Linked DNA regions of Homo sapiens. The protein of the gene in region 1 interacts with the protein of each later gene in a pairwise test. Each region holds a gene or a part of one and is shown on either strand. Other genes may lie near its edges.

Region 1 (3,500 bases):
GTCTAGCTCTGTCGCCCAGGCTGGAGTGCAGTGGCCCAATCTCGGCTCACTGCAAGCTCCACCTTCTGGGTTCACGCCATTCTCCTGCCTCAGCCTCCCTAGTAGCTGGAACTACAGGCACCCGCCACCATGCCCGGCTAATTTTTTGTGTTTTTAGTAGAGATGGGGTTTCACTGTGTTAGCCAGGATGGTCTCTAGCCAGGATGGTCTCGATCACCTGACCTCGTGATCTGCCCGCCTCAGTCTCCCAAAGTGCTGGGATTACAGGCGTGAGCCACTGCGCCCAGCCCCATGATGGATACTTTTTAAAAGCTAGTGAGGCCTGACTTATTCCCTGTCCCGCCATCAATGAGACTCCTCACAGATGGTGTGGAGGGAAGCCGCCTCCCTTCGGCCTCCCTTTCCTGAGAGAATCTTGGTGGCTCTGCATCCCCAGTGGCCCTGGACACGCTCTCCCTCTGCGGTCTGTCTATCTGTCTGTCTCCCCTGGTTGGTCGGCTGGGCTCACAGTGAGCCCACCTGGACAAACATGCTGGGCCCCTTCCAGCCCCTCAAGAATCTCATCCTCCCCTGAGGAGGGACTGCTGTGCTCAGGGACGAGACAGAGCCGCCGGGGCTGGGGTTCCCTGAAGAGGCCTTGCTGCGGGAGGGATGGGGCCGAGCAGCTGCTTGTCTCTGTCACCTCTTCTCTCTGTCCTGTTCCCCGTTAACCAAGAAGCACGAACCTCACACAGAGCTCACCCATGTCAGGCAGCTTTCTGGCATCTTCCATGTCCTCATGTATTTAATCTTCAAGCACCCCACTGAGGCAGGTGCTGAGAATCTCCCGTTTTACACGTGGGGAAGCTGAGGCACAGGAAAGGAAAGCGATTTGCCCAGGTTCACCTGCAGTCAAGGGCATGGGCACACTTACACCCCAGACAGCCTGGACCCATGCTGGGACGCGAGAAGAGGGCTGGCAGCCCTGTGAGGCAGGCGGGCAGGAGGCAGGCAGGCCTCCTCCCCAGCTGCCCCAGCACCCGTGTGCCCCCAGAGGGGACGGCTCAGAGTCAGGAGGCTGGTGAGCAGGGCCCAGAGGCGCCTCCTGAGGCGCCATTCATCTTGGCCCCCCTGGCTGTCAGGAACCCCGACTTGCTCTTGATGCAGTGTCTGAGCCTGGGAGGGTCTCGCTCCAGAACAGGTGAGTGGGCTTCTCTAGGCCTCCTGTTGGACACTAGGAGGTGATGGTCATGGTTTCCTCTTCTCTCCTCTAGCTCAGTTTGCCCAGCTGGCCCAGCTGAGCCCCCAGGAGCGTCTGAGCCGGGAGACGGCCCTCCAGCAGAAGCAGGTGTCTCTGGAGGCCTGGTTGCAGCGTGAGGCACAGACACTGCAGCAGTACCGCGTGGTGAGTGGGGTCCTGGGCCTCTCCTGGGCGTGGGTGCCATGAAGTCAGTCTCTGGGGACCCGAGGGAGGGCTGGGACCAGCATGAGAGCAGAACCTGGGAGGGCAGGAGGCCTTTTTTCCTGGGGGCCTTGCGAGGCAGAGCAGCTTGGGGAGAGGGAACGGCCTGGGCCCTGCCCTGCCATTTCCCAGCGAGGCCCTGCGGTGTTCTCTGGGAGCCCAGAAGGGGCTGCTCTCCTCCCTTCCCTCAGGAGCTGGCCGAGAAGCACCAGAAGACCCTGCAGCTGCTGCGGAAGCAGCAGACCATCATCCTGGATGACGAGCTGATCCAGTGGAAGCGGCGGCAGCAGCTGGCCGGGAACGGCGGGCCCCCCGAGGGCAGCCTGGACGTGCTACAGTCCTGGTAATGGTGTGGGGCGGCCAGCGGGCAGGGCAGGAGGGGCTGGTGGGGACCCCGGCTGCTTCTGCGTCCTGTGCTGGCTCCTGCAGCAGGCCCCCTCCATCCTGGGACAGCTCTTGTTTCTCCAGGGAGCCTGGTTCCTCAATCAGACTTTGGTCCCCATCCTGTGCACCTCCCCCAGGAAGGGGGCTGCTGTCCTGGGGGTGGGATGGGGCTCGGGTGTGTGGGGTGATGCTTGGGCTGTTTGGGCCTAGTCAGGGTCGCCCCTCCTGTGTACGTCTCTAATTCTGGGAGGCAGGGAGCTCTGCTCTTCCCATGGGTGGGAAGTGTGGCGAAAGCACAGAGCCTTCCTGGGGGAACGGGAGCTGTGTCTTGGGGCCTGGCGTCTGTGAGGAGAAGCCATTGTCCTCCTGTTGGCCTTGGGGCTCTCGTGCAGGTGTGAGAAGTTGGCCGAGATCATCTGGCAGAACCGGCAGCAGATCCGCAGGGCTGAGCACCTCTGCCAGCAGCTGCCCATCCCCGGCCCAGTGGAGGAGATGCTGGCCGAGGTCAACGCCACCATCACGGACATTATCTCAGCCCTGGTGACCAGGTGACTGCTGCCTGTTTGCCATGCCCAGGAGCTTGGGGCAGCTCCTGCCTGCGTGGGGGGAGCTGCAGGTGCCTTCCAGACCAGCAGATCCACTTCCTGCCTCTCATCCCTCCCAACTCCATCTCCAGTTGCTGTGGCTGCTAGGTGCCGCCCTTGCCCAGTTTCTCCTGTGGACACTGCAAGAGATACCCTGGGCCGCAGCCCATGCCAGCTGCTGTGTTATCTCACTCCCCTCTCCATCCTCTCCCTGGACTCTCACAGCTTCCCCGGGAACAGAGGTTGTGCCCGAGCTCATCACCTCCTGAGCCCCATGGGAGGCAGCCCCACCCCCACCACAGAGGGACTGAGAGCCCTTTCCCCTGCGCCAACCCCTCATCGTGTGTCTGTCCCTGTGTCCCATGCAGCACATTCATCATTGAGAAGCAGCCTCCTCAGGTCCTGAAGACCCAGACCAAGTTTGCAGCCACCGTACGCCTGCTGGTGGGCGGGAAGCTGAACGTGCACATGAATCCCCCCCAGGTGAAGGCCACCATCATCAGTGAGCAGCAGGCCAAGTCTCTGCTTAAAAATGAGAACACCCGCAAGTAATTGTGCCTCTCCCTTCCCCTGCCCAAGCTTAGGTGTGGGGGACCTGCACCCCCCGCTTTGTCCTTGCATCCAGCTATGTCTTGTCCCCTAGTTCACCGTGTTGCCCAGGCTGGTCTCGAACTCCTGGACTCATGCAGTCTTCCCACCTCAGCCTCCCAAAGTGCTGAGTTGATAGGCGTGAGCCACCACACCCAGCCGAGTATCCGTTCTTTACCCTGGGGATGGTGTGGCTGCCGGAGAGCTGAGGCTCACTGCCACTGCCCAGCATTGTGAGAGACTATCACACCACTTTCTCCTGAAAGTGTATTGCTTCACACCATTGTAAATTCAAACAATCATGTCAAACCATCATTAAATCTGGGACAGATGGTACACTGCCTTCCTCCTACTCAGATGCCTTCCCTGTCCCTGCAACAAGCTTGGTGCTAGGCTAGATGCCGTGGCTTACCCCTGTAATCCCAGCACTTTGGGAGGCCACGGTCGGAGGATCACTTGAGCCCAAAAGTTTGAGTTGGACAATATAGGGAGACCCTCATCGC
Region 2 (3,500 bases), about 25 Mb from region 1:
TGATCTGCCCGCCTTGGCCTCCCAAAGTGCTGGGATTACAAGCGTGAGCCACCATGCCTGGCCTTATCTTTTTTCTTGAAGCCTACAGATAATTTTGTGGAAAGGAGCCAGTGGTCTGCTTTTTGACTGTGGAGATGTTTGTTTGTAGTCTAAAATGGAATACTTAGAAGTAGGTAATCTTGTGTGGCTAGTGTTGTTTGACCTGAATTGTGTCAAGACATTTTCCACAGTTCTCACACATGTAGACTCTGTGAAGTGTTAGTATTCATTTCAAAGCGAAGTTAGTGGTTGGCCACTGAACAACTTGTTACACAAAGTATTCTAAAATGGGAAATGCCATAGTATTGAAGGTTGTGGTGAGGTAGAAGTCTGTGTCTCTGAGCTGAATAAAGACAGAGCTTTTTTAGTCTGTCCTTTTGGCTGGGAAGCTAGGACACTATTTTTAGGTAAGGCTGTAGTTTTTGGGAGTAAGTACCTTTCTATTAGCTGGTAAACTTGATTATTGCATTTGTTAACAAGAAGTTTTATTTTCTAATGCCATAGATATTAAAATGCATTGTCTTAAAGTTGGTATATATTTATAGACTGTCCAGTTTTCACTGGAAGAGGAGTGATGCCAAAACAACAGGAAAAGTCATTTTTACTTGCAAAGGGCCTCGTGTAATTAAAAAATCTACAGCATATTCATGAAAGGCTAAGAATAGTGCAGAGGGACCTACAAGTAAGTAGCCCAGATCTTACAGATGCATGTGTTCTCTATTTAAGCAGTAGGCTTGGCATTAATATTGAATGTAGATTAGTCTATAATTGTCTGTCAGAGACCCTAAGATCCAAATACAGGCCCCATACAAGAAATAAGGACCTTTGCCTGTTGTTTCAAATGTATAGAAGATTTCGGGCCAGGTGTATCAACAACAGTTATCCAAGAGATGGGGAGGAACTACTTAAAAAATTATAAGCAAATTTTTAGGTTTAATTTTCATAAACTTAGGTGAATATACATGCAGATGTAATTGGATTTCTAAGTAATGTTTTGAAATGTTTTCTAGAAGAAAAGTGATACAAGTGGAGAGTATGCCATACTATCTTACCATTCATTTCAGTTGATGAGTGCAGTCAGGGTTACTTCTGTAGCATTGGCTAGAAGCAGCATATAACATGATGGTTTATTGCTTTGAGGGTGGCTGGGATAATAGTTTTCAGTAATCTTGAATCTGTTAGAAGTGAATATTCCTCTTTTTAAAAGACCACTGTAGATGTAACAGGAAGAATTTTATTTATATATACATGTAATAACTATTTTGGTCAACTTTTAATTATTCAAAAGAAATGGAAAGTTTTTCAACTAATACCAACAGTCATACCAACTTGTTTACTTTTGTGAATTGTACTGGGTCAGTTTCTCCAAGTAAGAGCAGGAAGTTGTTTGGTAAAGCAGAGTGTATACATATATCTTGTCTTTGAACAAAAAAGAACTTGATTCATCGTCAGGTTCTTCAAAGAATGCATGGCATCTTTGTTGACTGAACTATTCTGAAGTGTGAATGTTTGTGATTTTTGTCATTTCTGTGCTATATTTTAGGTGTTCTTGTCACATCTGAATTTGCCTTTTTGCTTCCTTCTGCAGAAATTATCTTTGTTGTGATGAAAATGTCCTATAATGCGAGCTTCCTGTCAGTAGGCAACGTGTTTAACTAATACAGTTTTAAAAAATTATTTACTTTTATGCAAAACTCCTGTATGCTTATGGTAAACAAATTTGAGCAGTACTTATGTAAAGTAAAAAAGGTTAAAAAAAAGAAAAGCCTCTGTTCTTCTTCTGTCTCTAGTCCTGCTCCCTTGAGCTGAATCTGGCAAACAGCTGGGTGTCATTTAGCTTTTGGAAGACCTCTCTATTCCTGAGATATTCTGGCAGTGTGGAAGTAGAGTGAGAAGTCAGAAAAGGCATGGTCATTGAACCAGAGTTTGGATGTTGTGCAGGGACTATTCTGTTCTTATTTTCTGTGATAAGTAATAATGATAAACTACCATCAGCTTAAGATAACTGTAATTTGAATTGTGAAACATGAAAACAGTTAGTTCTTTAGTCAGGTTGGTAAAGTTTTGATTTGTTGATCTTTTAAAAGAAATATGCATGAATTGAATTCATGTAATGTTAGGGCTGGTGGGGGTTAATGGTAGTAATGAATTACCATCTGTTGAATTTTAGGATAAGCTGCACAGTATATTTACTATAGGCTTTTTATAACTCATCATCTCCTTTAATTCTCATAGCAACTCACGAGATAGTTATTTCCATTTTACAAAGGAAGAAATTCAGGCTTAAGTGTGACTCAACTAATGTAACGTCACGAGACCAGTAAAGTAGTGGAGCTGGTGTTCTTCCTGGAAAGCCTGTGCTCTTCTTTCTCTAGCTAGTCTAAGTGACTTATTTTCCAGATAAGGAAATATAGGCCTGAAGAAATTAAATGAGTTGCTCAAGGTCACACAGCTCAGTAGTAGCAACATTAAACCAAGCTTGTTTTTAATCTTTGGAGGCTTATCTCAAGACTCTTGGTCTAGTGCTGGTCATGCTACATTTTATTGAACTAGTGTGGACCAAAAGACCATATGCTGGGAATATTGGATACAAATGCTTTGGAACTGATATCTTGGTGAATGGTGTTTTCTACTATGTATTAAAAAAACTTTCTTCTTTGTCTTTCAGAAATTATAAAGAGCTCTGATGGGCTATTTGGGTGATACCCAGTGCAGTGAACTGCAGGTGAGTAAGGTTTAGAACTTTATTTAGAAAACAAGAATTTTATAATGCCTGAAAGAATAAGGTGGGACAAGGGTGAAGTGATACAGGGCTGTAGTGAAACAGTGGTAACCTGAAGGCACAGATCCTAACGGAATCGGTTACTTCTGGAACAGACTGAATGATGAACAAGCTCCGAAGAGACTGCCTGCTGCCTTGTCAGGTTAGTGTGTGAAATGAGTGAGGGTAGGTTAATCTTCCACTTCTGTTCAGATGAGTAACTGCATAGGGGCTCAGCTTATCTGCGTGCTATTGGAACTTGAGAGGTCCTTCAGTTTTTGTGTCAGCATTCTTGAGTGGCGATTACTTTGTGCTCCAGTGAACTTGGTTAAGTATTGAATTGTTTTTCCTGTTATCTGCTATTTACATAGTGTCATGAATGACTGTATATATCTGCAGTTTTGAGGATCTAAATATGGAGAACATATCAATAGAAACAAAAGGTTGAACTTTTTTTCCTAGTGGTTGTACTACCTCTATTGATACTATTAGTCTTTCAGATTATTTACTTTTTGCTGAAATACCTGTTAATTAAAAACAGTTTAGTCTTGAGTATTTATTATTTCACAGTAATTAATCTTCTTGGTCAGCTATGGTGTCTTCGTCTTTCATTATTACACTTAGAAAATGGTAATACTACAGAAATAAATTAGAAGGCTTTTAATACTTTCCTTATGAGGCATCAGAGTTAAAATTATTA

What was found. The genes of interacting proteins can lie anywhere in the genome.
Region 2: the proteins of STAT5A (region 1) and HELZ interact in a two-hybrid assay, tested with the Homo sapiens proteins (one large-scale study listed by BioGRID).

What each region holds. Positions count from the first base shown.
Region 1 is NC_000017.11:42,298,498-42,301,997, forward strand, and holds part of STAT5A (signal transducer and activator of transcription 5A), read left to right. Parts: intron 1-1,253; coding exon 1,254-1,384; intron 1,385-1,632; coding exon 1,633-1,784; intron 1,785-2,217; coding exon 2,218-2,373; intron 2,374-2,777; coding exon 2,778-2,957; intron 2,958-3,500. UniProt on the Homo sapiens protein: Carries out a dual function: signal transduction and activation of transcription. Mediates cellular responses to the cytokine KITLG/SCF and other growth factors. Mediates cellular responses to ERBB4.
Region 2 is NC_000017.11:67,238,697-67,242,196, reverse strand, and holds part of HELZ (probable helicase with zinc finger domain), read left to right. Parts: intron 1-2,707; 5' UTR 2,708-2,764; intron 2,765-3,500. UniProt on the Homo sapiens protein: May act as a helicase that plays a role in RNA metabolism in multiple tissues and organs within the developing embryo.